Linked DNA regions of Homo sapiens: region 2 is linked to region 1. The links come from fine-mapping of genetic effects on gene expression. A gene starts in region 1. The other region holds a variant in brackets. All regions are shown on one strand. Distances are from middle to middle.

Region 1 (5,372 bases):
AAAGACAGGATTTTGCCATGTTGCCCAGGCTGGTCTCAAACTCCTGGGCTCAAGTGATCCATCCAGCCTCCCAAAGTGATGGGATTACAGGCGTGAACCCAGCCTGTTCTATTCTTTATTGTATACCCAGGAGGAAATCCTAAACTTAAAAGATTGGGTTAAATAAAAATTCAGAAATGCCTATCTTTTCCTCCAAACTAGGAGTAATGTAAGATTACCATGAGTCGTGGTGGAGTGGAGTTCAATTCACCACAGAATCTGAGACAGGAAGACCTGCCAGGCCATCAGCCCCTTCCCACCACTCCTGCAGCATTCATTTTCAGGAGCAAAAGAGCCTTCCCACAATTACTGAGTCCAACACTTAGTTTCCAGGATAAGCCCACACCCAACCATTCTGTCCTGTGGTTCCCAGTGATACACTCACACTTGTTAGAATGTGCCACTTTGGGGTTCAGAAAATGCAATCACTGAGAGAAGCCCGAGTTGTAGTTATGCTCTCCTTTCGTTCCATACTTCCCCCTCTCTTGCCACATCTATCCACTAGAGGGAGGAAGGCCTAGAACCTCTTTAGCCAGAGTGGAGCAGTGGCAAGGATCAGTAGTGTGGCTTCTTAACCAAGCCAGCAGTGGGGATGTCAGAAGCACCGGAACATAATCGCCTCATTCTCTCGGAACAGAAAAGAGGAAGGGTCCCTTCCTTCCCCTTTTCAACCCTCTCTGCATGGATTGGCATGTCACCATGATCTGGTGCACTCACTTCCCTCAAGTCAGTGTGCAGGCTGCTTAAAAAATTCAGAGGAACATGTACTGGGGTCTTAGGAACATTTTCAGCCAGTGGAGAGGAAAAGGAAAACTAAGTATCTCTTGGATCATTCACAGAGTTCACCAAATACAACTGAAAACTGGGGGCTCTAATGTCCCTGCTGCCCTGATGGTATTAGTTTAAGATGTTGACACTGACATCTGCAGAGATCTCATCCATCACGGTATATCAAAGAGCAAATGTCATTCTAGTTGAGAAACTCATGTATGAGAAAGAATGGTCATCTTGGGAAATCTGTAGCTCCAGCGGCTCCTGATGTTTTTTCCTGCCTCCTCCTGTCCCATGCTTGTGCCCCAGGCAGAGCTCATTCCTAAAACCATAGCTGACCCTCTGTGCTGTCTTTTAAGTTATAATAGTAGCTGCCAACTGTTGAATATTTTGCTTTATGACAGGCACTACACTAAGCACGTTAACATATCTCACTGAAGCCTCACACCAAAGCTATGAACTAGATACAATCTATCTGTAGATAATAATATATATCCATCTGTAGATATCCATCTTATATCCATCTGTAGATGAAGAAACTCAGGTTGAGTAAGCTATCTAAGGTCACAGAGCCAATAAGTGCTAGAGGCAAGATTCTTATTCTGTACACTCTGCCTCCAAAGCCCACTTCTTTGACCCTAAGGGCACAAGAACCCAAATCAGGATGTGAAGCTTGGTCTTTGAAACCAAAGGAAGCTCCTGAATCATCCTGATAGGCTGACGGCTTGGCGCTGTAAACAAAATCAGTCTTTTGTCAAAAGGAAATGAAGTTGCCATGCCACTGTTCACTCCTGTAAGAGACTCCTCTGGGCTGTTCCATTCTCTTGCTGCAATTCAGCCGGTTGAAAAACTAAGGTGACTGCACAATGATTAACTTCAGGCCCTTCTGCTCTACTTTGAGCCTGTCTCTGGTTCATCGTTACACTCTCCGCTCAGCACCCGCAGACTCAAGAGATTTCCAATCCCCCAATTTAGCGTGGTTCTACCTTAGGCAGAACTCCCATCCAGTTCGGATATAAGCGGGTCGAAGTGGCAGGGACCACCTCGCTGGGAGGAGAGGCTGGAGCTGCGGTCTTAAAAGATCTTGGGGCCGGGCGCGATGGCTCACGCCTGTAATCCCAACACGTTGGGAGGCCGAAGCGGGTAGATTATTTGAGCCCTGGAGCTCGAGACCACCCTGACCAACACGGTGAAACCCAGTCTGTACTAAAAATACAAAAAAAAAATTAGCCGGGCGTGGTGGCGCACGCCAGTAGTCCCAGATACTCGGGAGGCGGAGCCAGGAGAACCACTTGAAACTGGGAGGCGGAGGTTGCAGTAACCGAGATCGCGCCACTGCACTCCAGCCTGGGCGACAGAGCGAGGCTCCGACTCAAAAAAAAAAAAAAAAGTATTGAATAAGCACCGGAGACCCTGAGCCACCGAGTAGCGGAGGGAAAGGGTGGCGCGCAGAGGGGCCCAGCCCCGCCTCTGCCGGACCCCGCCCCCAAAAGGCCCCGCCGCCGCCACCTCCTGCTAGGCCCCGCCCCCGACAGACACCCCCCCCCCCCCCCGCCAGGCCCCGCCTCCTGCCCCCCCAGCCGCGAGGTCCTGCCTCCTGCCCGGCCCCGCCCCCGGCCTGCCCCGCCCTCCGACCCGCCCCGCGGCGCATTGTGGGATCTGTCGGCTTGTCAGGTGGTGGAGGAAAAGGCGCTCCGTCATGGGGATCCAGACGGTAAGACCCTCATTCAGTATCCTCCACTGGGGGACCCCTCCCCATCTGGTTCTGGCCACTCAGCTCCGGACCAGGGGCTGTCGCTGCCGACCCCGCCCCGCAGGGCTCTGGGCCCACCGTGGATGCTGGGGTCCCGATCCCGCACATCCGGGCTCGGGACTCCGCCAGGTTACCCCTCTGCCCTTGGCATGCCTCCGCGCTGGAGCTCGGGATCGCCACCCCTGGGACGGTCACCACCCAAGCCCCGGGCTCTTACCCAGCCTGGCGGTCACGCTGCCTCCTCTACCCACAGAGCCCCGTCCTGCTGGCCTCCCTGGGGGTGGGGCTGGTCACTCTGCTCGGCCTGGCTGTGGGCTCCTACTTGGTTCGGAGGTCCCGCCGGCCTCAGGTCACTCTCCTGGACCCCAATGAAAAGTACCTGCTACGACTGCTAGACAAGACGGTAAGTTGGGGAAGAAAGGGCCAGGGTGAAGGAGGGGACCAGAGTGCTCCTGGCATGGAGGGTACAGCACCCACGGTGGTTGGGATGTCCAAGGGACGTGGCAGCGCCAGGCGCGCTTGGTGAAACACTTGTGTCCTCCACCCTCCAGACTGTGAGCCACAACACCAAGAGGTTCCGCTTTGCCCTGCCCACCGCCCACCACACTCTGGGGCTGCCTGTGGGTAAGGAAAGTGTGGAATGGGCTCCTTTCCCTGGTATCCTCAGAAGGTGACTCCCCTCCTGGGATCTCATGAAACACGCTGCTTCAACCGGTTTGCTCCACACACCATTCCCCTTCCCCCACTTGGCTCTGCATCCTCCAAGCTGTGAGGTGCCACTGGGCCCCTCTAGAGTGTGGCTTCCATGACCCCCATCCAGCTTTAACACTCAACAGTCTTGCCTCTTCCCTGCAGGATTTGCTAATTACTCCCTCTGAGCAAGCACTACTAACTTTTTCCCATTGCCCAGACCCTTTTGGCTCATCTGTCAAGGTCCTGGCAGTAACTGGCAGGAAACGCTGGAAATAAGTGTTTCCTCAACTGGGCGCTTATAAGAGATCCAACTGAGGGCTCAATGGGGCAAATCTTCCCTGCCTTGTAGCTCCTTGGGACCACAGCAGGAAGCAAGACATCTTGTTCTCTCAAATCTCTTTGAGTATTTTGAGGGATGCAGCACATCACAGACAACCCTTATGTAGCTCTCTGCACGGTCCCCAGGCAAACATATCTACCTCTCCACCCGAATTGATGGCAGCCTGGTCATCAGGCCATACACTCCTGTCACCAGTGATGAGGATCAAGGCTATGTGGATCTTGTCATCAAGGTAAGGGGCTAGGAAGGGACCCAGGGGCTGCTTACCCATTCTTTCTGGGATTTGTAGAAATTTCTAAGATTTGCCTGACAGCAGGAAATGGTATGTACTCTGTGGATGTGAAGAAAGTATGAGCTACTCAGGAGACTGAGGCAGGAGACTCACTTGAACCCAGGAGGCGGAGGTTGCAGTGAGCCAAGATTGCGCCACTGCACTCAAGCCTGGGCAGCAAGAGCAAAACTCTGACTCAAAAAAAAAAAAGAAAGAAAGAAAGTATGTAGACGGGGAAAAGATAGCACATATCTGATCCCTGCCCCAGCCTCAGGGAGGTTTAGTCAACATGGGGCTCAGAAACCAGTGACATTCCAAATAAGGTATTTTTCTCTCTGTCTTGTAAGGTCTACCTGAAGGGTGTGCACCCCAAATTTCCTGAGGGAGGGAAGATGTCTCAGTACCTGGATAGCCTGAAGGTTGGGGATGTGGTGGAGTTTCGGGGGCCAAGCGGGTTGCTCACTTACACTGGAAAAGGTAATGACCTGTCTTCTCCTTGAGCCTGTCTCCCACTTTATCAGTTCCCATAGTCCTCTTGGCACAGTATGGCTGTGTGTACACATGTGTATGCACGTAAGGGCCAGGGCCGCCCTTCCTTCTAAACATAGCGCTGATACAATAGAAAGGCATGTTTCTCAGCCCCATTTGCCACAGGAAGCAGTTCCTCCTCCACTTGAATTCCCTAGCCATGGCAGCTGTGGAGATTACTAAAGCAAACATGTGCCCCTCTTCCCCACCTTCAAAAATTTGCCCCCCTGGGTGAGCTGTGGAGTGAGCCAGAGATAGCTTTCAGCCCTTCCCATGGGAACAGCTGGGTGCATTAGCAAGTCCCTGGAGCTGCTGTGTGCCACTTGGGAAAATAGATTCACACCTGGCTCTGTGCCTGTCTCCTTCACCAGGGAGTGACACTTTGCCAGAAGCAGCTGATACATTGTGTGGCGCTGAACTGACTCACAGATAGCCCTGGCCCCATTGTCCCTCAACTATATTATTGTCAGGGCTGGCTCAACTCAAGCTTCCACCCAAGCTCCAGGATCAGATGTCATAGCAGCTGCTCAACTGGCCTCAGGCATATTTTCAACTCTGCATTTGTTTTCTAAGTTCGCTGTATTGACTTTATTCTTCCACTGCTCTCTTCACCTGACCTCTCAGGGCATTTTAACATTCAGCCCAACAAGAAATCTCCACCAGAACCCCGAGTGGCGAAGAAACTGGGAATGATTGCCGGCGGGACAGGTGCATTACACTGAGGGCCTTTCTCTCCCACCATTGTTGACTGTTGCCATGCAAATTCCTAGGTGACCCTCTGAAGACTGGTAACCATAGCCAAGCTGTTGTTCATCAGGGGATTTCCAGCAATGCTTAGAACTCCCTAGTATCTGAAAAACAAAATCATAAGCAGGTAGAAACCAAAAAAAATTTTAACTGATGGAATTAGAGAAACAAATTAAATGAGCTTTCCTCATTTTGAATGGATCTAATAGTTTTAGGTGAGAGAAGAGAGA
Region 2 (5,372 bases), 140 kb after region 1:
TGAGACGTTTCTGCTCAGCCTTAGAAGAAACACGGAACAGGGAGACCAATGTGTACAAGAGGCTGCTTCCATCCCCTTGCTGCACTGATGAGATTCCCCACTGTCAGCCATGCTGAGGAGAGGTAAAAATAGGGACAACTGTCAGTGCACAGTAATAGTGACGGTTGTCAGAAGGGTTAGGGGTTGGGATCCTATGTGGGACCTTCACTCTTCCTTCCTCCCTCTTATTTCCCACCTGTTTTTCCCTTGGTGGAGGGGATGTTTACATCCTTGCTGCTCGAAGTGTGGTCCTTAGTCCAGCAACATCAGGCTGCTCTGTAAGCTCATTTCAAATACAGGATCTCGATCCCTATCTCAGATTTAATCAGAAGCTGCATTTTCACAGTATCACCAGGTAACTTGTATGCACAGTAAAGTTTGAGAAGTACTAAGCTAGGTGATGCTGAGTGTCTGTGGGTTCTGCTCAGTCTTCTTTGAGCCTAGAACTTTGTGGCGTATGGTTTAGGGGCTCAATAAATGTTAGCTATTATAATAGTTATAATTGTTGTCAATTATATTATTATATTGTTGTCAATTGTTGTCGTCTTCCCAAAGCTGCCCTTTGAAGGAGGTATATTAGGAAAAGGACTTCCCCTGGAAGTCAGGAGCCTGGAGTTTTTGTCCCAGTTCTGCCACTGATTGTGTGATCTTGAGCAAGTCCCTTCAGCCCTGAGTTTAGTTCCTGATCCATAAACTGGGGGAGTTGGACTATGCGACTCTAAGACCCCTTCTGATCCAAATGTTCTCTAATCTAGTGATTCCACCTTCTTATAGCAATTAACTTTAGTAACTGGCCAAGAAGGGAAAAAAAGAAAAGTAGTAGCCAACTTTATCTTTTTCCTCCTTCCTCCTCATACTGCTGATATATAAATATTTGCCTTGGGGAAGGAGGAGAGAATTAACTGCCAGATTCTTTTTTTTTTTTTTTTTTGAGAAGGAGTCTCACTCTGTTGCCCAGGCTGGAGTGCAATGGTGCGATCTTGGCTTACTGCTACCACCGCCTCCCAGGTTCAAGCGATTCTCCTGCCTCAGCTTCCTGAGTAGCTGGGATTACAGATGTCCCCCACTGTGCCCAGCTAATTTTTGTATTTTTAGTAGAGATGGGATTTCACCATCTTGGCCAGGCTGGTCTCGAACTCCTGACTTCGTGATCCACCCACCTAGGCCTCCCAAAGTGCTGGGATTACAGGCATGAGCCACCACACTTGGCCATTGTCTGCCGGATTCTAATATTCCTGGGCACAGTCTGTTTTTCTCCTTCCCTCTTCTGCTTTCCTTCCTATCTGCCTGATCTCTCTGGCTGTCCCTACTTCCCCTGGGATGCTGAATTCCTCCTTCTTGTTGGTACTCACTCTTTCTTCTCTTCTGGATTTTTTCCATATATTTGAAGGTGAGGTTCTGCCAGTCTTCTAGTGATCTTGGGTCCTTCCGGCTGTTATAACTGGCCTCCGGGGGCATTGACAAGGGCAAACATATATATCCTTTCATAAAAAGAACAAATTTTACACCCCAGTGGCTTCCCATAAGCTTTTCTAGGGAAAGAGGTGGAGTGAACCATTCTCCCTAGAGTGAGCCTGGCACATTCTCAGGATGCCTGGCCATTGGCTAAAATATCCAGGGCTCAAGCAGTATTTGCTGTCTTCTTTACCTTAACGAATAAGGAAAATAAATACAGCTTCTTCATGGACTAATAGGCCCAGGTCCATACCCCCATTCCCTTTGGAGCTTCCTGCTCTCAGGTGAAAAGGTCAGGAAGGAAGAAAGCCCAGGGGCTTTCCAGAATCTGCCTGTCCACACCATTTCCACCCTATATTCCCAGTTCCCAAACTGAGCAAGGCTCAAGGCTTGCTACTTGGCCTTTGACAGTCATCACATTTTGATCATCTTCAGTTTCCTTGGGGATTTTCAAAGTGATGAAGGGCCACAGGAATACGATGCCCACTGAGAGTATGAAGCATTTCCTGATGGAACACCGCATCGCGTCTGCGTCAGGATACGGTTCCTATAGCAAGAAGTCAACGTGTACAGCTGGAGGACTCTCTCCCTCCAGTCCATGCCTAGAACTTCCCTTCTGCCCTCTGGAAGGCTTCTCCACTTGTATTAACCACCCCATGTCTGCCCCCATATTCTATCTTTCCTCATTGTTAACTTATTTCCAAGATCTCAGTTCCCTATGACCTCCGCCTCCTGGGTTCAAGCGATTCTCCCGCCTCAGCCTCCCGAGTAGCTGGGATTACAGGCACGCACCACTGCGCCTGGCTAATTTTTGTATTTTTAGTAGAGACGGGGTTTTACCATGTTGGCCAGGCTGGTCTCGAACTCCTGACCTCAAGTGATCTGCCCGCCTCAGCCTCCCAAAGTGCTGGGATTACAGGCATGAACCACTGTGCCTGCCATCCAAGCACACCCTTTTATCTAATCTAGGAACCTGATACAATAGAGCCTTATTCCCTGCTAAAGAAGGAAGATCACATGTCCCGTGATGATATTTGTTGCATTCACTTCATATGCTTGGAGATTCAACTTCCCCAAAGTCTCCCCTACTCAAAATGATGAAGGTTGGCTGAAGCTTTAGTGATACAGTCAATTTTTTTTTTTTGAGACGGAATCTCACTCTGTTGCCCAGGCTGGAGTGCTGTGGCACAGCATCAGCTCACTGCAAGCTCCACCTCCCGGGTTCACGCCATTCTCCTGCCTCAGCCTCCCGAGTAGCTGGGACTACAGGTGCCCACCACCATGCCTGGCTAATTTTTGTATTTTCAGTAGAGACGGAGTTTCACCTTGTTAGCCAGGATGGTCTCGATCTCCTGACCTCATGATCCGCCCGCCTCGGCCTCCCAAAGTGCTGGGTTTACAGACGTGAGCCACCGTGCCTGGCTGATACAGTCAATTTATCTGAGTAAACAGATGGCCATTGTACTTTCCTTACCCCTGCTTTTTTACTTTATTTTTTGAGACAAGGCCTCGCTCTGTTGCTGAGACTGGAGTGCAGTGGCGTGATCATGGCTCACAGCAGCCTTGACCTTTCGGGCTCAAACGATCCTCCCACCTCAGCCTCCCAAGTAGCGGGGATGACAGACGCACACCACCACACCCAGCTAATTAAAAAAAAAAATTTTTTTTTGTAGAGATAGGCTCTCCCTGTGTTGCCCAGGGTCATCTTGAATGCCTGGGGTCACGTGATCTTCCTGTATCAGCCTCTGAAAGTGCTGGGATTAC[C/T]GGCGTGAGCCACCACACCCTGCCTCCCACATTTTTAAAAACCAAATCAAACTATTAAAACAACTAAACCTGAAGTGTTGCCAAATGCCATGCCAAATTGGTGTCTTTCACTTTTTTTCATAAAGAGTATCCTTAATTTATTCACAGACCTTGATTAGAACATGATTCTGTTAACTTAGAGTAAAAAAAAAAAAATCCTTTCCTGCATGTTGGGTTATTGGAATTCAGGCTGGCTCAGCCTCAGAAGTGCTTGTATGCTGCTCTCTTCCTCTGTGAGTGTTTTTTCTCTAGTGAGATGTGTTTCTCTGATTGCTTCAAGATTATCAGAGGAAAGGCTTTAACATGCCTTCTCACCCCTTCTTGATTCTTTCCCTGTGTGATCAGTACACAAAAGAAAAGCTGTAGTCAGTGATTTCTGTGCTCCTGAGGCCATACTGTTCTCTAATCTTCCCCATTCCAGGGATGCCTTCCAGTTTAGTATTTTGGTAGAGGTTAACATGCTTTTCTCCCTTAGCCACTTCGCTTTTTGATGAGTTATAAAAGTAGGCTGGGCACAGTGGCTCACGTCTGGAATCCCAGCTCTTTGGGAGGCTGAGGCAGGAGGATTGCTTGAGCCCAGTAGTACTGAGACCAGCCTGGGCAACACAGGGAGAGCTCCACCTCTGTTTAAGAAAAACAAATAATAACAATAATACTTATATCTCCAGGTAATCACAGTGATGAGGAAAAAAAAATCTTATAGTAGTAAGGCTTTACAGATTAAACTTTTCTTACTTGGCTTCCTTTAGGAAAGACTTTTAGTCCCATAGGTGATTCACATACAAACCTCTTCATGTAAAAGAAATAGGCCTCTCTTCTCTAGACCATAAATGTGTGCGTGTGTGTGTGTGTGTGTGTGTGTGTGTGTGTGTATACACCGCTGGGCATGGTAGCTTACGCCTGTAATCCCAGCACTTTGGGAAGGCGAGGCAGGTGGATCACCTGAGGTCAGGAGTTCGAGACCAGCCTGGCCAACATCACGAAACCCCTTCTCTACTAAAAATACAAGAATTAGCCAGGCATGGTGGCATGTGCCTGTAATCCCAGCTATTCAGGAGGCTGAGGCAGGAGAATCACTTGAACCTGGGAGGCGGAGGTTGCAGTGAGCCGAGATTGTGTTACTGTACTCCAGCCTGGGCAACAGAGCAAGACTCCACCTCAGGGGAAAAAAAAAAGGGGTGGGGGCTTTTGGGCCAGGCGAGGTGGGACTTGGATAAAGATCACCCAGTGAAAGTGTGTGGGCACTCAGGCCTTCAATCCCAGCATTTCAGGAGGCCAAAGCAGGAGGATCACTTGAGGCCAGGAGTTGGAGACCAGCCTGGGCAACATAGTGAGACCCCGTCTCTACAAAAAGTAAAATTAGCCAGGTGTAGTGGCACATGCCTGAAGTCCCAGCTACTCGGGAGGCTGAGGTGGGAGGATCGCCTTAGCCTAGTAGGTCGAGGCTGCAGTGAGCTGAGATTGTGCCACTGCACTCCATCCAACCTAGGGGAGAGTGAGACCCTCTCTGTCTCTCTCTCTCAAAAAAAAAAAAAGGCTTTAGGCAGGGAATAAGGCTCTAATTGCAGTTAAAGGGTTTCACCACCACAGGCATAGCTCTGTTCCCCTTTGGTACCTCCCGTGTAGTTTCCCAGTCACGGAGGGAAGACTGCTGTCATTCAGCCCTTTGAGTTCAACAGACTTCTGGAAAAGGCAGGAGACAGAAAAACAAAAAGGAGCTGGGGTGATAAGGACCAGTCACTCTAGGAGTAATGAACAGAGGGTGAGGCCAGGCACAGCAAACAAAGGTCTCCCCAGTTTTCTATCCTTGAGCTAAGCTCCCTCTGTGATGTTACTGTTGTGTCCTAGCCACCTACTCCCCATTGTCAGAGGAATGCACATGCAGGACTTACATGTGACCTGTTTGTGCTTCATCATTGGGAGCTATGACTTCGCATTCACCCTAAAGACCAGCATCAGTATCTTTTTAGATACTGAGCACTCACCTCCCCACCCGCACCGTGTCCCCTACTTCCTTATGTATCTCCTACATTCTCTCCTTCCCTCCTGTTGGTTCCACTGACGCTTAGGCTCGG

Evidence for each region. PIP is the estimated chance that this variant, and not a neighbour inherited with it, causes the effect.
Region 2: its variant is the best candidate, but not a certain one, in a credible set for the expression of CYB5R1 in whole blood (TOPMed, PIP 0.75).

Annotation. Positions count from the first base shown.
Region 1 is chr1:202,964,343-202,969,714 of GRCh38, reverse strand. It overlaps CYB5R1 (cytochrome b5 reductase 1), which reads left to right and starts at 2,458. Exons shown (of 9, transcript NM_016243.3): 1 at 2,458-2,524; 2 at 2,817-2,966; 3 at 3,115-3,187; 4 at 3,722-3,828; 5 at 4,215-4,344; 6 at 5,020-5,103. The coding sequence starts at 2,510. RefSeq lists silencers at 1,360-1,654, 2,271-2,430, 2,501-2,550.
Region 2 is chr1:202,819,926-202,825,297 of GRCh38, reverse strand. All of the region lies in intron 2 of LOC124904583, which reads left to right. It also overlaps the pseudogene MGAT4EP. Among named protein-coding and RNA genes, the nearest start is that of PCAT6, 12 kb to the right of the region's middle. The variant C/T (reference allele first, on the strand shown) is at 3,259.